Linked DNA regions of Homo sapiens. The protein of the gene in region 2 purifies or fractionates together with the protein of the main gene of each other region. This does not show direct contact. Each region holds a gene or a part of one and is shown on either strand. Other genes may lie near its edges. The genes, in order: LIPH and C3orf52.

Region 1 (15,891 bases), about 73 Mb from region 2:
TGAATTGTAGTTCCCATAATCCCCACTTGTGGTGGGAGGGGCCCAGTCGGAGGTAATTGAATCATAAGGGTAGTTTCCCCCATGTTATTCTCGTGATAGTGAGTTCTCATGAGATCTGATGGTTTTATAAGGGGCTTCCCCCTTCACTCAGCTCTCATTCTTCTCTCTCCTGCCACCATGTAAAGAAGGATGTGTTTGGTTTCCCTTCCATCACGATTGTAAGTTTCCTGAGGCCTCCTCAGCCATGTGGAACTGTGAGTCAATTAAATCTCTTTCCTTTATAAATTACCCAGTCTTGGGTATTTCTTCATAGCAGCCTGAGAAGGGACTAATACAACATACGAAGTTGGCAGCAAAGTGAGTGGTGGAAAGGAGAGTCATGGAAAAGCAAACAAGGGAGGGTTATAACTACAGCTTGGCATCCTCCACTAATGTTGTAAGGTCCTGGAGCATTTTGGCAATGGTGCTAAAATGAGGATGTAAGGACAAAATCCCCTAGATTTTCGACAGGTGAGCTTGTGAGGTGTTGGGACCACCTGGAAGATGTGATAAGAAGTGACAAAGGGGCAGGGTGTAGTGGCTCACACCTATAATCCCAGCACTTTGGGAGGCCAAGGCAGGCAGATCTCCGGAGTTCAGGAGTTTGAGACCAGCCTGGCCAACATGGTGAAACCCTGTCTCTACTAAAAATACAAAAATTAGCTGGGCATGGTGGCATGTGCCTGCAAGCCCAGCTACTCGGGAGGCTGAGGCAGAATAGCTTGAACCCATGAGGTGGAGGTTGCAGTGAACTGAGATCAGGTCACTGCACTCCAGCTGGGCAACAGAGCAAGACTCCATCTCAAAAAAAAAAAAAAGTGACAAAGGAGCCAACTTCTCTCTTTTCCAGGAAGTCTGGGAAATGGGCTATTGGCCTCCAAAGATAATGGAGACAATAGTAATGAAGGTGTCTGGGAGAAAAGTCTAAGGCACAGAAGGTTAGGCACCCTCATGGAAACAGACTATGGCTAGGGTGGAGGGCAAGTCTTTACTCACAACTGAACATGGTTCCATGGGGCTCAGAAAATAACAAAGAGTGTTCATTTAATAAATGTTTCCTGAAAGCAGACTATATGGTAAGCACATGGCTCCTGCCTTGCAGAGCAGTCTAGTGGAGAAGACAGATATTTATCAAATAATCAGGCAAATAAAATAAAAAAAACAGGCTGGGTGCGGTGGCTCACGCCTGTAATCCCAGCACTTTGGGAGACCGAAGCAGGCAGATCACTTGAGGTCAGGAGTTTGACATCAGCCTGGCCAATATGGTGAAACCCCGTCTCTACTAAAAATACAAAAATTAGCTGGGCATGGTGGCACTGGCCTGTAGTTCCACCTACTTGGGAGGCTGAGGCATGAGAAACATTGGAACCCAGGAGGCAGAGGTTACAGTGAGCCAGGATTGCACCACTGCACTCCAGCCTAGGTGACAGAGTGAGATTCCGTCTCAAAAAAAAGAAAAAATGTTTAAAAATACAACTAAAAAGTGCTATGAAGGAGAGGTACAGTGTGGAACCTCTCTGTATGGAAATAAGGTCCAAGAAGACTCCCTGAGGAGGTGGCAATTGAGCCACGATCCAAATGATGAGTAGGAGGTCACCAGTGAAGAGGGGAGGGAAGAGGGTAGACTGTAATTTAATTGTGCTTTGAATTTGGCACTCAGACAGATATATGGTACTGAGAAAGAGAGGGGAAGAGAAGCAAGGATAACAAGAGACAGTCAAAAGTTCCAGGGGCCCTTGGAAGAAAGATTCTGAGAACAGAGTGGCCACAGTTATAACTGCCTTTATTTCTCCTGATCACTGTTACATGAAACTTACTGAAATTCATCTCCTCTCCGGTGAACAAACTTCCTTTCTTTATCCATTCATTCACCCATCTACCCATCCTACAGTGAGCCAGGTACTGAGAGCTAGGAGACCCACGAGCCTAGAGTTTACAAAGTAGTAGAAATTCTATTTCTGGCATTTTCTTGCTATTGTTTTGACTCCCTGCTTACCAGGAAAGAGAACAAAAAAGTGACTGTGCTGATCAAAACACAGACCAATAAAACTAAGAAGAAACCAGGGCTGCCGGGTACGATGGCTCACACCTGTAATCCCAGAACTTTGAGAGGCCAAGGCCAGTGGATCACAAGGTCAGGAGTTCAAGGCCAAGATGGTGAAACCAGGTCTCTACTAAAAATACAAAAATTAGCCAGGCATGGTGGGGGCGCCTGTAATCCCAGCTACTTGGGAGGCTGAGGCAGAGAATTGCTTGAACCCGGGAGGCAGAGGTTGCAGTGAGCCAAGATCGTGCCACTGCACTCCAGCCTGGGTAACAGAAGGAGACTCCATCTAAAAAAAAAAAAAAAAAAAAAAAAAAAAAACCAGGGCCTACAGCACACTGATCTCTCTATCCACAATTGCTGAGGAAATGTGAGAAGGAGGAGGAAGGATGGTAACATGTCCAAGAGCTTGTTCCACTCAGAGTTCAGTCATCCCTCACTTAAATAAAACAGACTCTGTATTTGCTGCAAATGTAAATCTGTAAGAAGATGTGCCACACAGGAATACATTTATAGATTTCTTTAATTTATGACATAGAGAATCCATTTTTGGCCGGGTGTGGTGGCTCATGCCTGTAATCCCAGCACTTTGGGAGGCCGAGACGGGTAGTCACCTGAGGACAGGAGTTCGAGACGAGCCTGGCTAACGTGGTGAAACCCTGTCTCTAATAAAAATACAAAAATTAGCCGGGTGTGGTGGCACATGCCTGTAATCCCAGCTACTCAGGAGGCTGAGGCAGGAGAATCAATTGAACCTGGGAGGTGGAGGTTGCAGTGAGCTGAGATCGTACCATTGCACTCCAGCCTAGGCAACTCCAAAAAAAAAAAAAGAGAGAGAGAGTCAATTTCTTCATAACAAAGGCTATTTTCACAGATAGCAGTTGAAGGAGCAATCACTTGGGTGAAGAGGAGGTGACTGGGCCTGTCACCTCCTTTTCACAGACCTTCCTGCAGTGGCCACAGCCATGGGACAGATCATGCCTCCCCTCACACTGGGCATCTGGCCCCAGGGATTGTCCTCCCTTCTTTCTGGCCTTGGCCTGACAGGACCTCTTGACTGGACTCCTGCTGTCATTCTAGATTTGCAGACAGCATCTACCTCCAGGGAAGCAAAGGATTCCTCAAACTGGAGTCTTCAGATTCTCCAAAAGCAAACCGGTTCATGTTTTGAATTCACGTGTTGGCAAAATAGGTGACAGCCTTGTTCCAAAAGGCTAACATTAATTACCTCTAATAGGATCGTGGACAGTATTTTTTTTTAATTTTGTATCTACGCATTTTCTAAATTTCCTTCAATAATCATAGATTACATTGGTAATAAAGAAACATAAACATTTCTTAAGGGTTGCTTAAAATGAGCGTTGCCTGTAAAGTGATCCTTCTCCACCTTAGGTGAAAAATAAGCTCTGCTTTTCCTTCCCTTGCCTCATGCTCCATCCCCTGTCCCCATGTGAAGAGGCTGCCCCACGGCTTCCTCGTCCTTCTTTCTTCATCCACTATCTAGTCCCAGCAGCCGCCCTCTTAGCTGTCAGTCCATCCCCATCTCCTCCAGCTCCTCCATGCTCCAACAGCACTTTAGAGAAGGCAGAGGGCCAGCACGTGGCTTTCTTGCCTTCCCTGAGCAAACAGCCCGAGAGAGAAGCTGGTGTTGATAGAGAGAGGCTCTCTTATTGCAAATTAGATAAGCCCAAATGTAAAAGCATATTCACATTTATCAAACATCTCATAGATGTGGCACCTATGGGATTTCAAAAAACCCTTCATAGATTTTTGCCTCCCAAACCCACACAGCAGCCCCATGAGGTAGACGTCAGTTTCGTTCCCTTCTACGTGTGGGAACTGGAGGAATGTGGCACGGAGAATGCAGAGTTGAGTCCACGGTGAGGCCTCCAGTCCGTCCTTCCCTTGAAGATGCTTGACCCGCAGCCGCGATGGGCAGAACCACCCGCGTGACAGGCAGCAGAATTGACAGGTCGGAACAAGGGAGGCCCCAGGACACAGCAGACACAGCGCTGCGCTGCTGCGAGCCTGGCTATTTCTGACTTGCCCTAGTTAGGGGCTCCTTCCCAGGATCGTTTTATAATCACAAGGTTGTTTGATGTACAATGTGACATCCATAGGACGCTACTGAAAAAAGCCTTGGTTTTTTTCATACTTTTTCTGCCTTGCAGAAAGGTGAGGTGAAGCTTTCAAACAGCCTGTGGTTGTAGCTTTCTTTCTATTATTTATGGCCATGTGTCCTGGCAACAGTTACAACTGCAACTCTGGGCAAAGAATAGGTTGGAAGACTGTTTCAACGTTTTCCATCAGGACAAGATCATACCGACACAGCTGAGGCCTGGGAAAATAAGACAAAATATCCTTGTAAATGAATTTATAAAAATGCAATGGTCTAGTAAATAATATTATATCCTTAAGATACAAAATTATTTAGCAATTGTTTTTAATATAGAAAACACTTACGGTGGCCAGGCACGGTGACTCATGCCTGTAATCCCACCCAGCATTTTAAGAGGCCGAGGCGGGCAGATACTTGAGGCCAGGAGTTCAAGACCAGCCTGGCCAACATGGCTAAACCCCGTCTCTACTAAAAATACAAAAATTAGCTGGGTGTGGTAGTGCGTGTCTGTGGTTCCAGCTACTCAGGAGGCTAAGGCAGTACTAGAGCCCAGGAGGTGGAGGTTGCAGTGAGCTGAGATCACGCCATTGCACTCTGGCCTGGGTGACAGAATGAGACTCTGTCTCAGAAAAAAAAAGAAAGAAAATGCTTATGGTAAGTAAAACACCAAGGAGAAAGCAAGATATATGGCCAGGCACGGTGGTTCACGCTTGTAATCCCAGCACTTTGGGAGGCCAAGGCGGGTGGATCACCTGAGGCCAGGAGTTGGAGACCAGCCTGACCAACATGGTGAAACACTGTCTCTACTAAAAATACAAAAAATTAGCTGGGCGTGGTCGCGTGTGCCTGTAATCCCAGCTACTTCGGAGGCTGAAGCAGGAGAATTGCTTGAACCCAGGAGGTGGAGGTTGCAGTGAGCCAAGAACGCGCTACTACTGTACTCCAGCCTGGGTGACAGAGCGAGACTCCGTACCAAAAAAGAAAGAAAGATGTAAAATTGTATTTACCATGTAAGTTCAGCTTTAAAAACAATAAAAGAAAGGAAGATTATATAGAAATAACAATAAATATTAGCAGTGGTTGCCTCTGAATAATGACAATATGGGTGATATTTTTCTGTTTCCTGACAATTTCTGTACTTTCTAGATTTTGTCAAATAAACATATATTGTCTGATATTCAGGGCAAAAAAAGTATTAAAAAGTTTTAGGATGTAATGACTATCCTCTTAGGAGAAACTTGTACTATTAAATGTTTTAAGGTACCCTAAACTTTCTTTTTTTGTTTTCTTTTTTTTTTTTTTTTTTGAGACAGGGTCTCACTCTGTCACCCAGGCTGGAGTGCAGTGGTACGATCTCGGCTCACCACAACTTCTGCCTCCCAGATACGAGCAATTTTCCTGCCTCAGCCTCCCGAGTAGCTGGGATTACAGGTGCACACCACCACTGCCCAGCTAATTTTTTATATTTTTGGTAGAGACGGGGTTTCACCACATTGGCCAGGCTGGTCTAGAACTCCTGACCTCAGGTGATCCGCCCACTTTGGCCTCCCAAGGTGCTGGGATTACAGGCATGAGCCACCGTGTTCAGTCCCTAAACTTTTAAGAAAAAGGAATTCACAAAGTACTAACTACTCACATCATTTCCTGTCTCCCTCTCTGTCCACAGGTTAGATGCTAGGACTATATGGTAGACTGGCATTTGTCACAAAACATACATGTCAACACAGCTCTGTACTTAAATAATAATTCTTTCTCTCCTTCTCGCCCTCTTTCTCTGTTTCTCTCTCTTTCTCTCCCCAAACATACATTGTTTATTTTTTCTGGCACAATTGAGAATAGATTGTTTACTCCTTAATACTTCATTGTATATTTCCTAAGAACAAGGACATTTTCAGTGCCATTATCAAATTTAAGAAATTCAATATAATACTTTTGTACTGTCAAGGGTACAGTGGCTCATGCCTGTAATCTCAGCAATTTGGGAGACAAAGGCGGGCGGATACTTGAGGCCAGGAGTTCAAGACCAGCCTGGCCAACATGGCGAAACTAAAAATACGAAAATATTTTTTTCTACTAAAAATACAAAATCACAAATACAAAAATTAGCTGGGTGTGGTGGACGTGCCTGTGGTCAAGGGAATAAAATGTTCCAATTTTCTGTACCTTTTTTTATACTAGGCTCTGTTTAATCAGCTTGCCAAATTATCCAAAGCTTTCTTTTCTACAACAAATTACCAGCTTACAAGCAGTGTGGTAGTTAGGGAAGAACTGTATAGTTCTAAGCATATAACAACATTATTTCCTTGGATTACTAGGCCATCTACCTTATCTACCTTTAAGTACATGCAGTATAATTTTCTTGGATTACTGGGCTACCTGTTTTTATTTTTAAAATTTTTTATTTAATTTTTTGTTTTTATTTTGAGATAGAATCTTGCTATGTTGCCCAGGCTGGACTTCAACTCTTGGGCTCAAGTGATCCTCTCACCTCAGCCTCCTGAGTAGTGGGATTACAGTCATGTACCATCAAATGCAGGTGGGCTGGGCCACTTGCTTTCTGTTTTGGGTTGTTTTTTTTTTCTTTTTTTGTAGAGACAGGGTCTCCATACGTTGCCCAGGCTGGCTAGAACTCCTGAGCTGAAGCAATCCTCCCAGCTTGGCCTCCCAAAGTGCTGAGATTATAGGCTTGAGCCACTACACTTGGCCTGGGCTACTTGTTTATAATAAAAACTATTTTTGGAAAACCCATCATGTCCCTCATTGTGAATAATAGAGTCTTATTAACACATCAGACCAAGCAGATTGGACAGGATCCAGCAACATCTTTGGAAAACAGCGTTTTGTCAAACCGTACCCTCAGCTCACCTCTCCGGATGGGCAAGGGACCTTAACTTCATTCGGAGAATCCTGAGCTTGTACCTTGGGCCTATTAGAGATCCTGTAGAGAACATCAAGGAAATTGCAGCCACTTTATCCAGATCTTGATTAAATCTTGCAAGTAGACTCACTTGGTGATATTTCTGAAATGTGGTGGGTTCACTGGAAGGAAGAAGTAATACTGAAAAATGGATAAAGACTACTAATGAGAGAAAGCAGTTTTGAAGCCTGCAAGTCACTGGTAAGCTGGTAACTATTTCACCCCATAGCCTGCACCAGCTGACTTTTTTTTTTTTTTTTTTTCTGAGACAGGGTTCACACTGTTGCCCAGGCTGGAGTGTAGTAACCACCCAAGAACTAGTCAACTTTGATGGGCAAAGTCTGCTGACTCCAAAGGGCGATGTAAGTGACCCAAAATGACATTAGAGAGGCACGATGCTAATGACTGCCTAGTACACACCAGATGATGTCCTTGTCTCTCGACTCATCTCTCCAACTCCCCAGAACATTCCGCAAGGGGGGCATTATTCTCCTCATTTAATAGACAGAAATAGATGCTTACAGAGATCAAGCTCCCCAGGTGACAGGCCTTATATGTAGCAGTGAAGAGATTCCAACCCAGTTCTGGCTGAGTTCAAAGTTATGATCTTTCCGTTAAACTGCATCCCTAGATGCCTAAGTATATCTTTAGCCAAAATAGATGCTAACTGAATTGTGCTGTAGCATGTATTTTTTTTAGTTCTCCCTCTCAAGATGAACCTTAAAAAAGGCAAATCCAGAGTCTGATCCTGTTATCCAAGTGTATAGAGATGTTTTCTATAGGTGGAAAACCAAATTGAAGGTAAGGCATATCACTGGAGAGGTTCAGCTCACTCACTGTCTTTCTGGGGAGGTGGAAGAACCATGGAGCCCCTGGCTTTGGGAACAGAAGGCTTGCTCTAGACATTAATCCTTTTTTTTTTTTTTTTTTTGAGATGGATTCTTGCTCTGTTGCCCAGGCTGGAGTGCAGTGGTGTGATCTCGGTTCACTGCAACCTCTGCCTCCTGGGTTCAAGTCATTTTCCTGCCTCAGCCTCGCGAGTAGCTGGGATTACAGGCACCTGCCACCCCTCCTGGCTAATTTTTGTATTTTTAATGGAGACAGGGTTTCACCATATTGGCCAGGCTGGTCTTGAACTCCTGACCTCAGGTGATCCGCCTGCCTCGGCCTCCCAAGGTGCTGGAATTACAGGCATGAGCCACCGAGCCTACCCAACATTAATCCTTACTTTGGGAATGGGGTAATCGTGACGAGGTATCTGTCACCCCACTGGGATCATGTCTAAGTCCCATGGAGTACAGAAGTGCCACAAATAAAACTAATCTAAGAGGTGCCCAGATTTTGTTTTCTTAACACCATCTCTACTGAAAGAAACCAGAGCTCCCTGGAGAAATGGTTGATTCCATGGCTGGGGCAGGAAACGTGCAAAGTGATCCTGGAAACCCGTGTGCCAGAAAGTTAGTAAGTGTTTTAAACAGTGATGGAAGCCGGGCACGGTGGCTCATGCCTATAATCCCAGCACTTTGGGAGGCTGAGGCAGGCAGATCACAAGGTCAAGAGATCGAGATCATCCTGGCCAACATGTGAAAACCCGTCTCTACTAAAAATATAAAAATTAGCTGGGCATGGTGGCTCACGCTTGTAGTCTCAGCTACTCAGGAGGCTGAAGCAGGAGATTCGCTTGAACCTAGGAGGTGGAGCTTGCAGTGAGCCGAGATCAGGCCACTATACTCCAGCCTGGTGACAGGGCAAGGCTCTGTCTCAAAAAAAAAAAAAAAAAGATGTAAATGTTCAAAAGACACAGAATCATCTCACACCCATCCAGATGGTTAATATCAAAATAATAGAACATAACAAATATTGGTGAGGATGTGGAGAAACTGGATCCTGTATGCACCATCAGTGGGATTGGAAAATTGTGCAACCATTAAGGAAAACAGTATAGTGGTGTCTCAAAAAATTAAAAAGAGAACTACAATATGATCCAGAAACTCCACTTCTGGATACAAGTCCAAAAAAATTGAAAGCAGAGTCTCAGACATTTGCACACCCATGTTCATAGCAGCACTAGTCACAATAGCCAAGAGGAGGAGGCAACCCAAGTGTTCATTGATGGAAGAATAAACAAAATGTGGTATATGCATATAATCAAATATTACTCAGCCTTAAAAATGAAGGAAATCAGCCAGGCGCGGTGGCTCACACCTGTAATCCCAGCACTTTGGGAAGCCGAGGCGGGCAGATCATGAAGTCAGGAGTTTGAGACCAGCCTGGCCAGCACGGTGAAACCCCGTCTCTACTAAAAATACAAAAAATTATCTGGGCATGGTGGCATGTGCCTGTAGTCCCAGCTACTCAGGAGGCTGAGGCAGGAGAATCGCTTGAACCTGGGAGGAGGAGGTTGCAGTGAGCTGAGATGTTTTGATGTATGTATACAATGTGGGATAATTAAATCAGCATATTCATTTGTTGTTTAAATCCTTTATCGAAAACAAGGATAACTTTTGTATTACATGTTTAATCAAAGGAAGTAAGGAGGAGAGGAACAAAGGGAGAAAGAGAGGGAAAGAGGGAGGAAAGGAAGGAAAAAGGGAGGAAGCAAAGAAAGGAAGAAGAGAAGGAGGGAAGGAAAGAAAACCCTTGCACCAATCCCATTTGTAAAGACCCTGGGAGATCAAGAACCAGGGAAGCAACTAAGCAATAGTTCCCCTTATATCTTTTATAGAACAAGGAAAAGCATAGATCTATAAATAAGAAAGTAGGTGGATTTGTGATTTAATTTCTCTGAGCAAAAAGGGAAATAGCGCACTGCAAACAATTGTAACTCAACTTACTGATTGATTTTGGATTCTGTGGTGTTTCCAGCTTTGTCTCTCAATTTGATGGTAATGTCCCCTCTTCTTACATTCTTGTTCCATGTTATAATATCCACAAAGTAATGATACACTGCAAAACAGAGAGAGAACACGGTAAGAGAGAGATACTACCAACTGATCCCCTGAAGGGCTGGTTCCTAAAAACTGAACCTCCCTAATCACTGAGTCTCTTCTTCTCTTTCTCTCTGGTTTCTCTGCAAAGATCCAGGGCAGAAGTTTCTAATATTCCCTTCTCTTCTCTTTGGTAAAGATGGCATGAGTGATAGCAGAGTTCATTGGTTTCCAGTCACCATGGTCAGGCATCATCGTTGAACCAGTGTTTCCAGGTATTGTGAAGTCTTAGGGCTTATGGCTGAGTGTGGTTCACATCAATTCCTGCCCATTTTAGACTCAACCAACTAAGGGGCCATTCGGAGACCCTCCAGGGCTGAGACGGTTTTCCACAGTTTGGGCCAAGTCCACCAGCCTACTCAGCCTTCCTCATCCTTCTCCCAATCATGCTCCACCACCTGCACTCCCTGCACTGTGAAGGCTCCTGGGCCTTCACCCACCTGGGCACGCTTACTTTGCCAGCTCTGTGAATCCACCTTTTAGGTTTCAACTTAATGTCATTCCTCCAGAAGGCTTTTCCTGACCCCCAGACTAAGTCAGGTCTCCTTTCTTGAAGTTCCTGCCATACTCTGGACTCTCCCCATTATTATTCAGCACACTTTCCTGTATTTACAAAATGCAAGAAAGGGTGATAATAAAAATAAAGTGGCATTCCCTAACCAGCAGACTCAGAGAAAAAAAAAGTGGTGAATATGTGGGTACATCTATACAAATGTTACCTGAATAATGTCTTATGGGTTTTTTTAAAAAAAAAAAAGATAAAATTAAAACACGCTACAACAGGAACTAATCAGGGAGATGACAGTCCCACGAAGGAATAAGGTCAGTCCTGGATTTGCCATTTTATGGCCCAACTTGCTCAGGGGCTTGCCCCATACAGACCAGGTAGGTGCCAAATCCTGGGCTGCCACACATGGCTCCAAAGAAAGAGGGAAACCCAGTGATCTGCAGGCTTTTTTTTTTTTTAAAAGAATCTCTCTGTGTTGCCCAGGCTGGAGTGCAGTGGCGTAATCTCGGTTCACGGCAACCTCTGTCTCCTGGGTTCAAGCAATTCTCCAGCCTCAGCCTTCTAGGTAGCTGGGATTACAGGCAAGCACCACCACGCCCAGCTAATTTTTATATTTTGTTTTTGGGGTTTTTGTATTTTTAGTAGAGATGGGGTTTCACCATGTTGGCCAGGCTGGTCTCAAACTCCTGGCCTCAAGTGATCCGCCCGCCTTGGCCTCCCAAAATGCTGGGAATGCAGGCGTGAGCCACCATGCTTAGCCTCCAGGCTCTTTTAAAAGAGTTGCTCACACCTGGCATGGAAGTTCACACCTGTAATCCCAGCACTAAGGCAGGAGGATTGCTTGAGCCCAAGAGTTCAAGACCAGCCTATGCAACATAGTGAGATTCTGTCTCTAAAAGAAACAAAAAAAACAGTTAGCTGGGCATGGTGGCGCATGCCCGAAGTCCCAGCTACTTGGGAGGCTGAGGCAGGAGGATTGCTTGAGTCCAGGAGGTTGAGGCTGCAGTGCCCCATTATTGTGCCACTGCACTCCAGCCTGGGTGACAGAACAAGACCCTGTCTCAAAAAAAAATTAACATAGCCTGGGCATGGTGGCTGATGCCTGTAATCCCAGCGCTTTGAGAGGCCAAGGCAGGCAGATCACCTGAGGTCAGGAGTTTGAGACCAGCCTGGCCAACATGGCAAAACCCCGTCTCTACTAAAAATACAAAAATTAGCCAGGCATGGTGATGCACACCTGTAGTCTCAGGTACTCGGAATCCTGAGGCAGGAGGATCGCGTGAACCCAGGAGGCAGAGATTGCAGTGAGCTGAGATTGCGCCACTGAACTTCAACTTGGGTGACAGAGTGAGACCCTGTCTCAAAAAAAATAAATAAAATGAAATAAAATAGTTGTTCCCAAGGAAAGTGAAAATGGGTACAAGACTGTAGGAAAAACACATCTGCCCAAGGAAATTCTAGTTGCTTCCCAAGGCGTCTAATCATTGGCTGCCCCCTTTAATTCCCATCTGGAATACTCAACCTCTCGAGGCCTTTGGGTCATCATGTTTGCTTTAGAGCTGGAACTGACCTGTAGATATGGCTGACACCTGATTTTTCCTAGTCTTAATTTTATGTCTTTTGGGGAATCAAGCAATTTTCTGGAAGATCTTAGTGATTAGAATGGTCATCCAGTGAAACTAACAACTCTGATTTGTTGAGATTTTATTAAATTAATATTTTTAAATGGCATCAGATTAAACCTAATATCCCAGAATACAGGCATTATTACCCCCATTTGACCAGTCAGGACATTGAGACTCAGAGAAGTCAAATGACTTCACCAAGGTCCCACAGCTATTATGTGGTAGACTCAGGAGTCAACCGAGGCCCTTCCAGCTCCAAAGTTGATGCTTCATCATGGCTCTTATTTGCCAAGAAGTAGCCAGGAAGCTGAGACTCAGCCATCCCCAAAATGAGAGTTAGGCAAAAGCCAACAACCACATTCACCACTCACTGCAGAATGGGCTCTCCTCAGCTGTGTCAAAGAATGCCTTCGTCATTGGAGGATCTTTCCCCCTTAGATGGTCTTTCCAATTATCAGCATAATAGCCTATGAAACAAGTTTAAAAAATTGTAAGATTAATATGTATTATACAAACATAAAAGCAACTGAGGTAGCAAGAACATTGAGTTTGACTGTATCCACCACTTCTGAGAGAAACTCCATCCCACCTCCATCCCCCATGGTGAGGGCCTGCAGGGTGACCCATCTTGCTGGCCAACCCTGTCCCTAAGAGCTGAAGGGCAACAGGACCCTCCAGTTGTTTTCCCCCTTTACTGGTTCTCAGTAGCAGGGTGGAGAGGTGTGGGGTGTGGCACACACTGGTGTGGACTAAAAATAACACTGACATTTTTCAGTAATACATTCATTTTCTAGATTAAAACAGATTCAAGTTCATACCTAAAATAGCATCACTCTTGAAAACCAATATGCTTTCTTGAAGAACTACAATGGGGCCCCTAAATTGCATAGACCTGGGCTTGCCACATGACTGACTGTGTCACTAAGCAGGTGAGTGTCCTCCTTTGTTTTTGCTGTCCAGAGGGCCCTCTTTCTCTCCTCTGTCCCTAGCCCTAGAGAATGGCCTTCACATTCTGCCTTAATTGATCCAGGGTGGGACCCAGGCATCAGTATTGTGTTAAAACTCCTTAGGTGATTCTAAAGCACAATCAAGGTTGAGAACCCCTTGTCTATACCATGCCCTGTTGTTAACTTGGATTTTTCCTTTTGGAAAAAAAATAGAAAATCCTCATGACCATCCAGTTTCAAAGTCCTAACCACCTAGAATATCTGTACTAATCCCTAGCGAATATCCAAGCAGCCTCCACAATATCTATTACCTCACTCCACCTGCTGTACGTGCACACAAGAGCCAGAATGTGGAGTGAGGGCATTTACATAGACATGAGTCTGTGAAAAAGTTCACTTGTCAGGAGAGTCTCTGGGCTCATTGTGGACCCTCTCCCAGCAGAGAGGTTGTAAGCACAGAAAGGGTATTCCTGTCCCCACAGGAGCAGGCTACGTAGAGTGACTGTACCCTGGGTAAGCTTGGAAACTCTTCTGTAACCTTCTTTTCCATGCTAGAATAGAGGGTCCAGGGAGGCTGTACTGCCTTCTGGATGGAATACTCTACAGTTGCTTTTCTTTTCTTTTTTCTTTCTTTTGTTTGTTTGTTTGCTTTTTGAGACGGAGTTTCACTCTTGTTGCCCAGGCTGGAGTGCAATGGCGCGGTCTCAGCTCACTGTATCCTCCGTCTCCCAGGTTCAAGTGATTCTCCTGCCTCAGCCTCCCAAGTAGCTGGGATTTCAGGCGCCCGCCACCATGCCCAGCTAATTTTTTTGTATTTTTAGTAGAGATGAGATATCACCATGTTGGCCAGGCTGGTCTCAAACTCCTGACCTTGTGATTCGCCCACCTCAGCCTCCCAAAGTGCTGGGATTACAGGCGTGAGCTACCATGCCCAGTCTACATTGCTTTCTAACACTGTTTATTAGTAGGAGACTAGAGTAGTTCAAAGAACAAATTGGCTAGAAAAAGCTGACTAGAAAAAAAAAGTCTATTTTTAAAATTTTTTTCTTTTTAAGAAATTTTTTTTTAAATTTTAACCTTTTATTTATTTATTTTTGGAGACAGGGTCTTGCTCTGTGACCCAGGCTGGAGTGCAGTGGCATGATCTCAGTTGACTGCAGCCTCAACCTCCTGGGCTCAAGTGATCCTCCCACCTAAGCCTCCTCTCGAGTAGCTGGGACTACAGGCACGCACCACCACACCCGGCTACTTTTTGTATTTTTGTAGAGACAGGGATTCACCATTTTGCCCAGGCTGGTCTCAAACTCTTGACCTCAAGTGATCCAGCTGCTTCAACCTCCCAAAGTGCTGGGATTACAGGCATGAGCCACTGTGCCCAGCAGAAAAACAAGTTTTTAATACAATTATGGGGCCAGTTTTTACATGATAAAGTGGTTCTGGGATTCATACCAAAAATTAGTTCTTTGTGAATCAGAGAGGAAACTGCTGGTTAGACTTACCCAGAAGGGGACAGGACTCTTTTTGTGACGTGCCGCAGCTGACACACTTGCCATTCCTATAATCCTGGTAGGAGTCACAGGGATACGCAGTGATGGTGCAGCTCTCTCTCAGGGAAGACAGGTACAGGTATACAGACCTCTGGTGGTCACATTTAAAATACTGAAATCCTTGGTTGTAAAAGAAGTGATGAAAGAGTAGAGCGGTTGAAGCATTTAGTAATACTATATCACATATTCTATACACACACAATTTCTCATCTGGCCCTGCGCTCTTTCAGTGTATTTTATTTCATTTAATCTTTATAAAATCCCATAGATAAGAATTCATGCTGGCAAGTGGGAGGAGAAAAGATGAAATCAAATTAAGGTTGTGGCAAGAATTAGAGCAAATATGCTTTGGTGAAAGACCCAGGGCCAGGTGCAGTGGCTCACGCCTGTAATCCCAGCACTTTAGGAGGCCGAAGCAGGTGGATTGCCTGAGGTCAGGAGTTCGAAACCAGCCTGGCCAACATGGGGAAACCCCGTCTCTACTAAAAATACAAAAATTCGCTGGGCGTGGTGGTGGGCACCTGTAGTCCCAACTACTCAGGAGGCTAAGGCAGGGAGAATCGCTTGAACCTGGGAGGCGGAGGTTGCAGTGAGCCGAGATTGTGCCATTGCACTCCAGCCTGGGCAACAGAGTGACACTCCATCTCAAAAAAAAAAAAAAAAAAAAAAAAAAAAAAAAGACCTTGATTGCTCACGTAGCAATCGAGGTATCTTTCACTGTCATCCAATGCTTGATCCATAGATTGCCTGCATCAAAATCGTGCTTATTAAAATACAGAGTTCAGGTCCACCCTCAAATATTTCTAATTCAGAGGAGGCGCAGGCATCAGTATTTTAACAAACACTGTCCCCTGTCTTCCATGCGGTCCTGAAGCATGTAAGTTTGAAAGCCCCTGGTCTAACATTGCAGGGCTACTTCAGACTACAAAGTTGCTGTGTCTGCTCATCAAGCTGACATGGTGAGGGTGCTTGGGTCCAAGGCCAACTTTCCCCAGGTCATGGAGAATCAGAAGGAATTACCAAAATCGTTATCATAAAAGTAAATTGCTGGCTGGGCATGGTGGCTCACGCCTATAATCCCAGCACTTTGGGAGGCTGAGATGGGTGGATCATGAGGTCAGGAGTTCAAGACCAGCCTGACCAACATGGTGAAACCCC
Region 2 (15,891 bases):
CTAAATGTATATATTTAATAATGTCATGTATAAAATATGAATAAAATGTCCACATAGGAAATTAACACATATATACCTTCTCTGATAAGCACTCCTCTATGTGTCCTGATTATTTACTTTCTCTTATCTTTTCCTTAGTGTTCCTCAAATTATATCTATCCTCTAAACCAGGGATCAGCAAACTATAACCCCCAGGCCAAATCTAGCCCACTCCCTGTTTTTATAGATAAAGATTTGTTGGAACACAGCCACACTCATTTGTTTACCTACTATCTATGATTGTTCAACCATGGGAGAGTTGAGTAATTGTGACATGGACCATAGGCCCTAAAGAGCCAAAATAAATATACTTTGGCACTTTTTGGAAAAAAAGTTTGCAGACACCTGCCCTAAATGATTATAGTTTGAGAGAAACTTAACAGAAATGTGTTTGGTTACTGATGCATAAGAGCAAGCACCAATAAAATGGCATAAAAATATTAAATCACAAATGGATAAGTGAGACCAAGGCAATTTAGCAAATTCTACTATTTCTGTATTCACACCTGTGTCTTCCACTTGCTGTTTTATTTAACTCACGGCTACTGTCCTAATTTTAGGGATGCTAAAATAGTTTGTTTTAAAAGAGGTTTGTTTAAGAAAGCAGTAGGTACATTATGTTTACTAGACAGGCCCTTGGACCAGCTAAGCGACAGGGAACCTGGTACATTATGTTTAGTTACTGTTTTCTTCTCAAAGTTAACCAAAGCTAAATAACTTTCCTATGTAAAATGTGCTGACTCCCAAAAGAGGAGAAATGCAATGGCTTGAGCTTGCATGTGTCACAGGTTTGTGGAGCCTTCAGCCAGGTGATGGTCTTCAGCTAAAGAGCCAGCTGCATCTTGGTATCTCTTCCTCTGCTAACTTCCTACTTTTAGCAAAATTCTTTCACTTGGAACTCTAGCTGATCCTTGGCCAGGATCAGATCCTCAAAAGGAAATATTCAGTTAGCAGTGGATATTGTACAAGATGTAACATGGCTTAGAGGAAAGAGTGTAGACCCAGCGACAGATCATCAGTCACTCAAATCCTGGTTCTCTCTCTTCCTCCATCTGTGACTTTGAACATGCTACTTGGAGGCTCAGCTTCTTCACCATCAACAGGAGGATTACATCTAATGCAGGCAATCATCTATTACAGATGCCGAATAAATGATATCAAAGAGCATAGAGAAACAAAAATCTTTTATGATGTACGGAAAAAAACCATGCTGATACAGCTGGCTATTCAGGGTCACCCAGCAGTCCTCCAGCAAGGTAGAAACACCAAATCAATGAGTTTATGCTAGAATTTTTCACATGGCCACTGGACCATTGTGGAAGTAGACTGGTTGAAATATTCTTAGTATGACATAGTAAGTTATATTTGTTTGAACCTTATCCTGTGAAAGCATTATCTGTCCCAAACAGTATATGCCTTTTATCAGGGACACATTAAATATAAATGTTTAACCAAAGAAAGTTGTTCTTATAATGTAATTATAACAGGGATTTATAAGAGGGAATTATAAGAGGGATTATGAAAGGGAATTACTTTTGAGCAAGGGGAGCCATTTGGGAGTGCTTCAAGATACCCAATATGATATACACAATTATGATTTGTCAGTCAAAAATAATATTAAGAACAAAAAAAGAGTTAAAAAATTCTGATATGAGTGTAATATACTTAATATGTAGGATGTCTCAAATTTCCAGTAAATAAATTTTAATGTCCCAAAATACCCACTATGTCTGTATGTAACACTGATCCTGTTTCCCCTACATTTCATGATTTCTAATGAAAGCTGTGCACTCCCTTTGCAGAAAATGCACATTCACATACACACACATTTGTATACGATGTGTGCGGGGGTTAGGGATGCAACCCCTCAGTGAAAGAGTCCCTGTCCCTGATAAAGAACCTGAGCCTGAGCATTTAAATTACTCTCTCGAGCCACAAATATAACCAGAAAACTCCTCCTCCCTCATGCTGGTCTTAAAACTACATAGCCAAAATTCAGAGGCACAATTTATGCCACAACTGCAGACTTTGTGGTTTCCGTTTCACGTACATACTAGCATCTATAAATAATCCCTTATTCTGTGAATAAATTCTTATTTAAAACAGAAGAGAAAAATAGGAAGAGGGCAAAGATAGGGCGGGAAAATCTGTTGACAACAAGTTGAAATGCTAACGTTTTTTAGGACAAACTTGAGTGATAGATGCTTCGGATAGTCTCAGGGATGGGGAAGGGCATGGACAGAACAGGAAATAGAAGTCTCCAGGATTCCACAAGGGCTCCAGGGAAAAGTAGATTCTGTTTCCACTTATCTCTGTTCTTTTCCAAGCCTATAGCCTCAATTCAGAAACCCACTTGATCTGAGTGTACCTTGGCTCTGCCAACTGTGAAGTGGACCAGTGTAAATTCCGTCTACTTTCCTACAGAATTCTCTTTTGCAAGGCACTTGGTGAAGCCTTGAGAGGTCATCATCATCATAGAAAGCCTCCTGCAGTCTGAGGGCCCTCCCTCTCCATTCACCCCTGACCCCTGATCACTTGTGCTCCTTAGGGATTCCCAGATGTCAGCTAAGCCTGAACTGAGCCTGCCTCTGGGGATCCTACCTGAGCTGGTGGCCATTCATAGTATGTGGTTGCCCTGTGGGCTAGGCTTTGCCCTCAACAAGCTGTGGAACTCTGGGCTGGTCCTCCCAGCTCTCCAGAATTTGATTTCCCAACTGTGAGATGAGGGAGGTGCCTTTTGAAGCTGAGTCTGTAATCTCTAGTCACAAAGGAAAGATTCAAGGATGTCTGTGGATAAAGCTGCCAACAATGCAGCAATTGTTAATTCACAATGCAGTGTAAATTAACTTATTTTAAAGCAATGAAAGAGTGATGGGAGAGGAGAAGGAGGACATTGAGAGATTTCTCCCATTTTTTCTTAGCATTGATCAGACTCTGAATAGGACAGGATTCATGTCCAGAATTCACATGTAAAAGACAAAAGAGAGAATATGTACCTCATCCTAAGAAGACACGAACATGTGTAAAGGAAGGCAAATCTTCTTATTCAAATCCCACCAGTGCTTCAGGATTCGGCTTCAGTCCTACTTCCTACAAAAAAACGTCCTCTGATTATACTGACCACTCTTTTCTCTGACCACCCGCAACCCTACTGTTTCTGTTTGTTTGTTTGTTTGTTTGTTTGTTATGGAGTTTCACTCTTGTCACCCAGGCTGGAGTGCAATGGCGTGATCTCAGCTCACTGCAACCTCTGCCTCCTAGGTTCAAGCGATTCTCTTGCCTCAGCCTCCTGAGTAGCTGGGATTACAGGCGCCTGCCACCACGCCTGGCTAATTTTTAGTAGAGATGGGGTTTCACCATGTTTGTCAGGCTGGTCTCGAGCTCCTAACCTCAGGTGATCTGCCTGCCTCGGCCTCCCAAAGTGCTGGGATTACAGGCTTGAGCCACCGCGCCCAGACTGCCTTTGTTTTTGACCCCTGGGTATTTTTTTCTGCTGTTTCCTGTTTCATCTGTACTGATCCTGACTCCTTAATAAGACTAACAGCTTCTTTTCTTATTGTTGTCTTCTCCACTAGTATCCCCATAGCCTTCCATAAAACACATCATTTTTTCAAATCTGTAGAACTAAATTAAATTGAAAGGCAAAAAAGAATCAGACACATGGCTGGAATTTTTGTTGGCAGAGGAACAGGAGCAGGTTCTGCTGATATGGCTGTTGCCATTCTATCCATATCTAAGTGACATCCAGAGAAGAGCAGTTTTCTTCTCAAATCCTTCAATTATTAAAACCTCACTATGTACCAGGCATTATGCTCATCATGATGTTGTGTGATGACCAGTAGATTTATCTCCTATAGCAGAACAGTGCATTTGTAAGGGCCGTTTTTTTTCAAACACCACCAAATATGTTAGTCACAAAGGTTAGTTTTTTCCCATACCATTTGGGCAGAAAAGTCAAATCTATGGAAAGTCCTCTCTATGACTTGCAAATGGTCAAAACCCAAGACAAGGTACTTGCATCTTGGTGCTTTCTGAACAAGAAGGGAAGAACAAAACCAAATCCTGCCTCCAGACATGAACAGGCTGTTCCTTCAAGTCCAAGCCCTTTCAGATACCAAGTCCTGCCAGAGAGGGCCTCAGAGAAAGAGGAGGGGATGGCCTCTGCCTGCTCTTGCTGGAACAGAGGGGAGAACCCAGGCCGCCCCAGCCAAACTTGGCTTGATCTTATTCACCCAGAAGAGGAAGCTGCCCTAAGGGAAATGAAAAAAATTATGCTCAACACCATTTACTGCAAAAAACAAACAAACAAAAACCCAGCCCAAAGCTCAGCCAATGGGAATGCAACAACACAGATGCAAAAATAATGTATTGTAAATGTTTTTAAATCATTCTCCATTAAAATTTTTCATTATTTTCTACAAAATACAAATACACTAAGGTTCACATTTAACATGCAGAAAATAAAGAGGAAGAAGAGAAATCCACTAGTTTCACTAGTTTAAGGAACAATCACTAAAATGAGACAATGATCTATAGTACATGTATCTTCTAGTTAAATAGGAAAGCAAATTCACATTATCCAGAGTCCTGGGTCATAAAGAACTCAAGTCAAATCTAGTCTGAGGCAGACACTCTGGCTCGTGCCCGCACACAGCTGCCCTTCACACTGACTTTAACCCAGGGCTCATTTAACTGAGAGGCGAGATCTCTCACAATACAGCACAAAACTCTTTCTCCTGGTAAATTTCTTTTCCCAACAAAACAATCAGTTCCCTCACAACAGGCAATTCTGTATCTGTAGACAACCAATACAGTTGCTAATATTCCTCCTACCCCCCAAATAGCTGGCAAAAGCTTCCAAGAGTTTATTTTCAAAGAAGAGTGGTTCTTCTTGTATCACAACCATCTGTAACAGGATACACAATCATTGCCTGAAGACACTGAGTCCCACAGGAAGGTTTGTAGCACTAGGCAACAAAAAGCCAATGCGTAATATCCAGAGCAGATATTAAACAGCCTTAATGATTCTCTAATGGAAGTTTATAAAAATATAAATGGAGTGACTATCCAAAGTGATAGTAGTGTGCTCAAAACTCACAGAGACCCATATTTCCAAAAAGGTGTTCAGGAATCACAGGAACAACGAGGAGCTGCAAAATAATGAAGAAACACATAGCTCCCGTCTGTAACTAGCTATATACATAGATTTCAAAGTAACCTTGGTGGTGTTCCTAAGGCTGGCTGGCTAAGATACTCAGGTACAGGTCATGGAAGTAGACACAGAACCACACTGCTGAGGTCTTCTAAAGTGCCTTCCTTTTCTTCACAGCCTGGCTTAGAGGTAGATCAAATCGAATGGTGGGGGGGAGGAGGATGACTTCAGTGAATAATTGGCTTAGTCTTCGTAACCTGGCTGCCTGCCTCTCCGTGCTCTACCAGCTCATGCTTACGCGATCCCACCTAAAAGAAGACAGTGCACCTCTGCACTAAAGAAAAAGTAGCCCAGGTGGGTGGAGTGCTTCAAGAATAGCAGTGCCATGATCACGCCACCGCACTCCAGCTAAGCGACAGAACGAGACCCTGTCTCAAAAAACAAAACGAAACAAAACAAAAACAAACAGAATACCAGTGACCTCCAACAGTGGGACATACCCGCTGACCCTATCGCCCCCACCCTAGCTGGCTTCCTGCCTTTGTCAAGACTGGACCCAGCTGAAGCAGTGCTCGGGAGCTGTTTTACTGGGCTTAGAGCCAGACTGTAGAATCGGGAGAGAAAGGAGTCTCCACCCCTCTGGTGTTGCTGGTGCTTCTGTATTAATCCACAGAATCTTTTCTGCAAAACAGAGTGAATTCCCTTCATCTCCAGGACTTGGTAGAGCACTGCTTTCAGACAGAGACCAGCCTCCATCACTTCATTCTAAAAAGAAAACACAGATGAACAAAAGTTACTGATTTTTAAAACCACTATTAAATGCTTACGTTTTCATTTCATTTCATTGAATTTTAGTGTAAAATCTTAGATAAAATTGCAAGGTTTATACATTCCTAACAGAGGAAATTTAGTCTTCAGTCCAACACACACACACCGCTCTGAATACATTTCAAAAGGCAAATGACATTTATTGTTTCTTGCTTATTTGTTTGGGTAGGATGCATGAGAAATAATTTTGATGATGTGGTTTTTGGGTGCTAAGGACATTTTAACATCCAGTCCCTTTTCATAATCTAACCATAAACTCTAAAATTTCCGTTTTTAAAACGTGTAAAATATACTGTGAGAAATTCTGATGAGAGAAATGGTGTGAACCCTAGGGCACAGCAGGTGCAGATGCAAAGCCCCAAGCAGACACAACACAGGGGGAGCCCGCCGGGGTCTACAGACCAGGAGTCCAGCCTCGCCACCACTGACAGGACTGACAAGATTCACTATTCTCCCTACCTGGGGCTTTTTCCTCTTCTCTCTCACAAAAATCCTGGTTTTGCCCTTTTTCCCTACTCAGTCTACTAGCTGACTCCTTCCCATGTGAGAACAGTACCAAGTACCTCCTCTGTGTCCAAAATAACTCATGATGCTGACCTATTCTTCGACCTTTGTAAAACAGACTTCCCCCTCCTAGCCCAGGGCCCCACTCATCTAGGAGGTGAAGAAGACCAAAGATAGGGAAGGGTGAGGGATGATGGACTTAAAAAATTCCTTTATCATTATATTTTAAGTTTTTATTTTTATAAGGCATCCAAATATGCATGCAGTCAGGTCAAAATAATCGCCGTATTTCCAAATTAGAGAATGAGAAGCAAACACACACAAAACCCCTCAGGAATCTAAATTACAATCTAATTTTGGATTCTGCTTCTAAAGCGCACATATACAAACCCCAAATGGACCATAGGCTGGCCTCAGGGAAATACTCGGAATCCCTGAAATTGTCTGTACAATTTTGTGTTGTGGGGAGAAGTAGGTACATTTTTTTTTCCTGGGGAGAAGGTACACAGCTGTCTTCAAATTCTCTAAGGAGCACACAAACCAAACAATTTTAAGAATCTTTGCTCTTTGAAGACTAAGAACATTACCATTGTGGGAAACTAGTTGCCTGGGTAATCACAGGGCGGGGATGGTAATCCCCCAAGCCCACAGCTCATGAGCACGTAGAAACTGGCGTAAGAACTCATTCCATCCCTCTTGGTCCCTCCCAGGGCCCTGGGCCTCTCCCTGACACATTTTCCCTTTCTCTAGAGTTTGCCTCTGAGCTCATCCCCCATCTGCCTGCATGCCTGCGATGAGTCCCTCTTCTTCTTTCCTCACTTCCCAACTGCTTCTCTGTGCACCCTTCCCTTTGAGAGGGCAGTGACACTCACATTCTGAAAACATAAAATGGCTCAAATATTGCACATTCATGCTCTGGAAAGTGGGACATGGGGTCACAGAAAACCCCACATTTTCTCAGCATGTCCCGTCAGAAGAAATGTCTGAGAGAAAGAATGCAATTTCCAGAAGAGCAGAGACTTTGTTCCACTCACAGCTGCCTTCCCAGCACCTGCTGGAGCACCAAGCCCTGGGGAAACAGCTGAGTCTCTTTGGCCAAGCTCAGGGTCTTCTGGGAGCCCTCCTCAGGTCTCACAAGCAGCCTGCCCTTTATCCTGTACTATTTGAACCTCTCAGCCTTGGAAGCCTCTTAAACCTTTCCTCAGACCTCTGCCCATCTCCCTGGCCTCCATTTGGAAAGAGCCAGTAACAATTTTTGCAAGGGGCCTAAGAAAATCAAGACCAACCACACCACAGCAGCAGCCCCCACAGGCATCGCAGGCCTCTTCACATGGGAGGAGGCTGAAGGTTTCTGGGTTTTTTTTTCTTTTGAAATGGAGTTTCACTCTTGTCACCCAGGCTGGAGTGCAATGATGCGATCTCGGCTCACCGCAACCTCTGCCTCCCAGGTTCAAGTGATTCTCCTGCCTCAGTCTCCCGAGTAGCTGGGATTATAAGCACCTGCCACCATGCCCGGCTAATTTTTGTATTTTTAGTAGAGATGGGGTTTCACCATGTTGGCCAGGCTTGTCTCGAACTCCTGACCTCAGGTGATCCAACTGCCTCGGCCTCCCAAAGTGCTGGGATTACAAGCGTGAGCCACCGCGCCTGGCTTTTTTTTTTTTTTTTTTAATTCCTGTAACTGGGGCACAATCTCTTCACTCCACACACATATAGTGTCTGCCTGACCCACAGACACACTTTATTCAGGATGCTCTGTGAGGAAGATCTCCATTTATGAGACTTCCAGTGAGCTAAAATTTGGCCTTCTGAATGGCATTCTTAAGAACTGTTTTACATAACGTTCTGCCTTCTTAGGCCAACATTACTCTTGCCTCTCATCCTCAAGAAACAGTGTCATCATCATAATAAACACCTTGTCTTGTACTATGCACTAACACTTGTGCTTTTAACCCCCTGTTCCATGCTTCTGATTCTAGACCGTTAATGCACCTGCTGCCAACCACAACTACTTCTAATTTGCCTTTCATTCATTCAACTAGTATTTACTGAGAACCTACTCATGTGGAGAAAGTGATTCTGATGGACTGTGGATGAGAACATAAAATATTCAAGATTGTTGGCATTAGGGGCTAAATAAGAGCAAACAAGCCTCCGAGCGAGGTATCAGAAAGTGAGATCAGCAGCAAAGGCCAGAGCTTCACTACAAAGCAATGGAAGGATATTTTGAGGGCTTGAAGCCATTTGGCCTTCTGACCTTCCTTTCTGTCAGGTTTTGTTCTGAGTGTCAAAAGTTCTCAGATTCTGATAAATGGGGTGTTTGTTACATTTATTAAAGAACATATCTATTTCCTTGTTCTGTTCTTAATTTTAAAAGTTGACAAGTAAATTTGTCATAATTTTCTAAGGAAAGGAATAAACTTGTCTTTGTATACCCCTCTATTAATTTCTTAATGGTCTCAGTGGCCTTCAACAGAAAAAGAAATAGGTTCCCCATATTGAGATACTCTTTCAGCAATTTAGCTGTATCATTTATTTCCAATTCTTCAATTCTTACTTCTCTTGTGAAACCACAGTATCTCCATAAAGGTTGCTAATCATGTTGTAAAGTAGGATACAGGGCTTAGAATGTGGGTGAACTGCATGAGGAAACATGTAGCAATGTTCATCTTTATAGTTGAATTATCTTTTCCATAATTGCTCCCCAACTACACTGTCTAATTATGGAGGGCACGGACTGTGTAGCCTCCACAGAGAGGGGAACATCACCTCACAGCAACACCATCTGCTGAGGGGATGAGTGAATAAATGAATAGTCTGACACAGTACCAAGTCACCACAGTTGCCAAATCGAACCAAGCCAATTTGACCCCAATCTGGTTCACCTGTTTATTGTCACAACTCTGACTTCTTTACTTGCTCTACTTACCATAGAGCAAGAGGGATGTTGGATCAAGCCCCAGACTCTCACAACCAGGTATATTCTGATCACGGAAATCCTGTAGCAAAATGCCCAGCACCAACTCCTCACTCATCATATACTTCATAAAATTTTCATCATCTGATGGAACCCCAAATTGCAGGTCATACGTTACTGTGGCATTTTCACCACTGAAAGGCAATGGAAGACATTAAAACATAAACAGCATCATACTGCAACTCAAGAAATGAATTTAAGCAATAACTTTTTTTTTTTTTAGTTTTGCATGTTCTTCCAGTACAAAATAGCAAAGAATGTTCTGTCCTGGAAGAACATACTGTCCTATAAGAATCCTCTTCCATAGATTCATCACAAAAAGTTGAGGTGATCCTAACCTCCTCCTTCCACCTAGTACCTATCCTCTAGGAATCCACTGGGAGAGGCCATCAGAGGTAGAGGTAGAGGTGCCCATCTCCAGTCAAGATGCTGAGAAGATCCCAGGCTTGACCCACCATCTGTCCCAACCCCAGCCTTCATCCCTTAAGGCAAGCCAGGGAAGCCTCCCCTTTTCTCCACACACATTCCTTCTTCATGTTCTCAGCATTGCCCCCACAAAGGTGTGCCAGGGATATTTAGTTTAACCAATTCTTTATTTGACCTATGAAAATGTTTAAGGCACAGCCAAAGTTTCCTACCATTGGCTGGGTCCAGAACTTCTGAACGTTGACAGAGACCACCCTGTGTATCAGCAACAAATCAGGCTTCCCTGGTTTGTCCCCAAAGTGAGAAACTTTTCTGTCCCATTTCCAGAGGCCCCTAGGGCAAGATAACCAAGCCCTGTAACTCTCAGTAATGGGACCTAAGGAAAGGGAATTTTCATCTTCCTAGAACATTTTTTCCCATTTCCAAAATAAAAATAATCAAGGGCTACCCTCCATTAATTAGTGTCTAATGCTACTCTTTAAATGCTACTTCAACATTTAGTTTATTCATAGTTATCCTATTACTTTGGTTTAAGATGGGCCAGATTAAGAACCAGCAATAAAATAATGAGCAGGAGGCCACATCTGAGACTATCACCTTGGGGAAGTTTTGCAGATGCACCAGTCCCATTAGTGTGAATCAGGCCACTGCCCCTGCTAAGGATAGGCAAAGAGCTCCCTCTTCTGGCTACAGGTCACATAGGCCGATACTCTTCGATCTTACAAGGTGGCTGACAATTGAGCTTATAAACTCTACTACGGCTGGGAGATGTGCCAGATCCTGCAGATCAAATGAATAATGGAGAGTCAGGACTCTGAAGAAACTCATAGTTTCAAGGATGCCACTAAAGGAGGGCCAAAAAATGCACTTTCAAACTGCAATCCAGCTAACCTAGTTTGCAGGTGTCATAACTTGTTCCCTGAGCTCTGCCCTCTAATTATCGCTAATGATGATCAACACCTACACAGCCAGCCACCCTGCATTCCCAGGGGCAAGGACTTGGGCTGGCTAATGAAGAGGGCCAGAGTCTGACTTTCAGAAGACCAGGTCAGAAGCTGAATGGGAAAATCAGGCCACCTAGCCTGGCCTGGCCAGCCCATCCTAATCCCCCATGGCAGGTCACAGGGTAAATTTACATGAGGCTGAATTTTGAGAAAAGAGCAACTTTCAGGGCCTTTCGCCCAGCTGCCCACCACTGGAGTGAGTCTAGCAGCTAATAAACCAAAGGGCATTTTTCCAGGTTCTAGCTGGGCCAGTCCAGGGCTGAGGTCACAATGCCCCTGTAGACACAAATGCATGTGCCAGGGATTTAGCCGCCTCCCACCCATGTGCAGCAGCACCCTTTGGGAAGCAATGGCTTTTCTTCCTCAATTCAATACTTTAGGACCTCTGCCTGGACTTCTTGAAATAAAGTGCAGAGATGTCACCGTAAGTACCATGTACACTGGGTCTGTTTTGTTTTGTCTTGTTTGAGTCTCTCTGTGTCACAGGCTGGAGTGCAATGGTGCGATCTCAGCTCACTGCAACCTGCGACTCCCTGGTTCACACAATTCTCCCGCTTCAGCCTCCCAAGTAGCTGGGTTTACAGGCACGCGCCACCACGTCCAGCTAATTTTTGTATTTTTAGTAGACATGGGGTTTCACCATGTTGGCCAGGATGGTCTCAATCTCCTGACCTCATGATCTGCCTACCTCAGCCTCCCAAAGTACTGGGATTACAGGTGTAAGCCACCATGCCCAGCCCATTGGGGGTCTTTAAAGAAGGAGATCAAAGGCAGCCTGCACCATATGTATCTGTAGACTTCAGGTCTGTTTGGCCCCACACCATGGTGCTACCTACCACCTGCTTTATGTGCCTCCCCTCCCAGGTCTGCTAATATTAGGGTTTGGAGAACTTATAGTTTGAAGGGGGAATCTCAATATAATACAACTTTTGATGGTCATATTCCAGAGACATCTCAGGCATAATGGATAATGAAGCTTTGATATAAATTTTAAGTCATCTCCAATAGTCCCAATGATGTAAAAGGATAATAAATGGACTCTACACACATACACCCTGATGCCTACATCTCAAGAACATTAAAGATGAGGAGGAAATTTAAAAAATAAAAAATACATATGGGTGTGTATATCCTATGTGTGTGTAGTATTTGTGGTGCCTATGGTAGATACATGAACAGAAGTAATTACACTCAACTCTTGACAGCTATTACCTCCATGGAAGGGAATGGCATTAGTTATTGGTGGTGGCAGTGGAGAAGAAAGGAGGCAGAAGGGAGACTTTTCCTGTGCATACCTCTTTATGTCTTCTTTTTTTTATTTTTATTTATTTTTATTTTTTTGACAGAGTCTCACTCTGTCACTCAGGCTGGAGTGCAGTGGCGCAATCTCGGCTCACTGCAACCTCCCCTCCCGAATTCAAGAGATTCTCCTGCCTCAGCCTCCTGAGTAGCTGGGATTAGAGGCACCCACCAACACACCTGGCTAATTTTTGTATTTTTAGTTGAGACAGGGTTTCACCACGTTGGCCAGGCTAGTCTTGAACTCCTGACCTCAAGTGATCTGCCCGCCTTGGCCTCGCAAAGTGCTGGGATTACAGGCGTGAGCTACCACGCCCGGCCCCTCTTTACATCTTTAATACTAAACAAGGAGAATGTACTCCTGTATTACTTGTGCTCCTCAAAAGCAAATGCCTATACATGTATCACTCGCATCACAGCACGACCTGAGATCTATTTCTACTTCTACCCTTAGCTTATTTGAGCATTCATTGTTAAACAGAAATGGTTTACCTGGGACTGGCTTTTCCCCTCTTCTGTGTGACCCTGGTTGAATTATACCATTAATCTGGGCTTCCTTTTTCTCATTTGTAAAATAAGGGAGTTGAGCCTGTTGGTGTAAAAGACCTTCCCAGCACTGACATTCTGTGATTCTATTACAGGTTCCCTTCATGCTCTGAGGCTCTGGGAATCCCTGCTAGGTAAATGACGAAGGGTGGGGTGGGGGGATCTCTTTCCAGAGAAAGAGAGCAAAATGTAATGTTCCACACTCTTACCTGAAGTCCACTATTTCAACTGAAGTAAAATAACGACCCAGAGAGGGCGATGTACTGTACACATCTGTGAGCTAAACAAACAGAAGCAAATTAAACCACACACATTACCGACAGATCATATTACACATCACCTGACAAAGCAAAACTGCTTCTAAGGCAGAGGAGATTCCACTCCAGCCTGGAATCAACGTTATCTGGAAGCTCTGGATCAAGAATTGAGCCCACCATAAATCAAAACTCAAGTTAATGCTACTTCAAAAGAACTCCATTTATAAGGACCAAATGACTCAGTTTCTCTCAGAAGTTGCACTGGCACCCTGTGGCCTTAGTGGTGAGAATATCAGCAGCTGGAGCCCACACAGGCCTCACAGACCATAGGAAGGAGAGAAGAGAAGACCCCAAAATGGCTGCTGGACAGCAGCAGCACAGACCACTTAGCACCTGGGACATTGCTTAGCCCAGGGCTTCTTTCTCCCTTCTCCAGAGCTTCAGTGTAAAGACAAACAGCCATGCTAAGCCATGGGTCTAGCACATCCCCTGGACAAAGAGACAAAGAGGGGAACTGCAAAAATATGGAGGCTTTATTTTATGCATGAAATATTGCAAGCATCATAAAAAATAATGACACCTGTGTTTCCACTACCTAGCTTTCATGTCTTCATATTTGCTATATTGGGTTCAGCCCTTTAATTTAAGAAACAAAATAAAGCTAAAGTGACTCCTACATACTATTCAGTTCCTCCTCTCTCTCTTTCTTAATACTAACCATCATTCTGAAGCTGGCATGCATCCTTTCCTTGCATATTTTTACAAATTACTACTTATTTATGTAATCATAACAAAATATAATTTGTGTTTTTATTCAAATAAAAGGCACCATATTCTACATAATCTTCTAAAACTTGCCTTTTTTCACTCAAAATTACATTTAAGATTTACCCATAAAGTAAATCTCAATGAAAGGCATTCACCTAACTCCTGCACAGATTCCTTTAAATGAGTATACCAGCCTATCCATTCCTCTGATGATGATCACATGCACTATTCTCAATTTTCCCCATCACAACTTATGCTGAAGCAATCATCCTTAATGTCTCCATGCATCTCTTCTTGGACATGCGGGAGTTTCCAATGGGCATATGCCAAGAAAAGGAATTGTTGGGTTTAAGGGTAGGTGCATCTCCAACTTCACAAAATTGTTCTCCCTTTCCCACCCCTCCCAGCAATGTATAAATATCCATTTCCCACATCCTTACCAGCACTTAGTGTTACCAAACTTAAATTTTTACCACTCCGAGGAGTATAAAATAGTGCTTCACATTGTTTTAATTTGTACTGCCTCGCTTACTAGTGAGGTTGAACATCTTTTCATGTTTATTAACTCTTTGGGACTTTTCATCTCTGAATTTCTCACTCATTTCCTTTCCTTCTCTTGGCTTATCTGTCTTTTTCTTATCTATCTGAAGTGGTTAGTTTTATATTCTGGATACTAGTTGTTGATATTATGTTACAAGTATCTTTTCCCAGGCATTGAGTAGTTGTGTTTCAGATATCTGAATCCTAAACTAGTAGTACTAGGAACATGTGCCATCCCCAGCTACAGCCATTATGGCTTAATGACCTATTACTTTATTCAATAACAAGCAGTCGAACATACAAAAAACAGCAGTGCCCTATGGGGAGCTTACCCTGTTTCCCCTCAACTCCAAATGGAATGTCAAGGACGCTGCACTTCCACAATACACTCCCATTTAACTCAACATGTACAACCCATATCTCAAAGAGAACAAAAGATGAGAGTGCCTGCTATTTCTGCTCTTCTAATCTTGTCACTACTGTTGTGATCTTTATAAAAACCTGGCAAAACAGGCATTAATATATCTCCCCTTTTTACTGGAAAATTAAACAGCACTCCATTCCATGAGATGAAGAAAACCTGTCCCAGGTCACTGTGCTAGTAAAAGGAGAAGCCAAAATTCAATCCTACATGTTATGAACACTAAAAACCAGCTTCTTCCCATCTGACCACACTACCCAGTGAAGAAGAAATTGATATATATACAGTGAAGGAAAGTGTCTCCTGAATATCAAGGAGGAAAGAAGCTTAAAGTGACAAAAACTTTCGGAGAAAATGACTGAGTCATTGTACAGCTCTTAAGCCCCAATGCACAGGATGTTGCCGATAGGCTGACAGTCATTTAGAAAACTCGGGAACTAGGAAAGCAGCTTTCACGGGGATGCTGTGATGGAGAGGAGGATGAGGATGCTGCAGAGGAGAATCTTTTCAAGCACTAATGTCAAGCACTCATGTCTTTCTCTTCCTTTTGGATTGAGCTTCCTATGGCAAAGGTGATATTTATCCTTCCTTCCAGTCTTCTCTGCTTCCTCCTTCCCTTCTTTCCTTTATTAATCTTTAGGGCCCAGCACAGTGTTTTGCACATAACAGGCTTTCAGCAAATTTTTAAGTTAAAATTTTAAGGTAACATATGGAGTGGTCGACTAAATCATTTTTAGTGTTCACTCGAAGATTCTTTTTGATCATGCTCCTCTGCTGTACTTAGGACATATTTACATTTGGGGAGCTGTTAGTCACACTGTCCACTTTGGGCCCAAAGAAGTGAAATAGGGTGGTTCCTCAACCCTTAGTCTTGTGTCTCCCACACAATGTCTATGAGGCTTGGTGCAAACTGAGCAAGGAGCTCAGCGAATTGATTAGCTGAGTCTGATGCAGTGGCTAATTAGAGACCAGCTTCCAGAATAAGGCAGGTGCCATCATTAACTCCTAACCCATGCACAGGGTGTGGTAGTCACACAGGCTGGCTTAAGCAGAGTAATGGCCCCAACCCTGAGAGGAAAACACTGTGGCAGTGACACATGGCAGGGCCTGTGTTTAGAAAAGTCAAGGGA

The links.
Region 1: the proteins of C3orf52 (region 2) and LIPH purify together in Homo sapiens (affinity purification with mass spectrometry; 3 studies listed by BioGRID and IntAct, with this or other methods). This does not show direct contact.

The regions. Positions count from the first base shown.
Region 1 is NC_000003.12:185,504,457-185,520,347, forward strand, and holds the end of LIPH (lipase member H isoform 1 precursor), read right to left. Parts: intron 14,854-15,891; coding exon 14,686-14,853; intron 12,707-14,685; coding exon 12,611-12,706; intron 10,066-12,610; coding exon 9,954-10,065; intron 7,242-9,953; coding exon 7,068-7,241; intron 4,422-7,067; coding exon 4,334-4,421; 3' UTR 1,806-4,333; downstream 1-1,805.
Region 2 is NC_000003.12:112,106,707-112,122,597, reverse strand, and holds the end of C3orf52 (TPA-induced transmembrane protein), read right to left. Parts: intron 13,056-15,891; coding exon 12,985-13,055; intron 9,798-12,984; exon of another isoform or gene 9,700-9,797; intron 9,635-9,699; coding exon 9,453-9,634; intron 5,957-9,452; coding exon 5,952-5,956; coding exon of another isoform or gene 5,600-5,951; 3' UTR 4,388-5,599; downstream 1-4,387. UniProt on the Homo sapiens protein: Has a role in LIPH-mediated synthesis of 2-acyl lysophosphatidic acid (LPA). LPA is a bioactive lipid mediator involved in different biological processes, and necessary to promote hair formation and growth.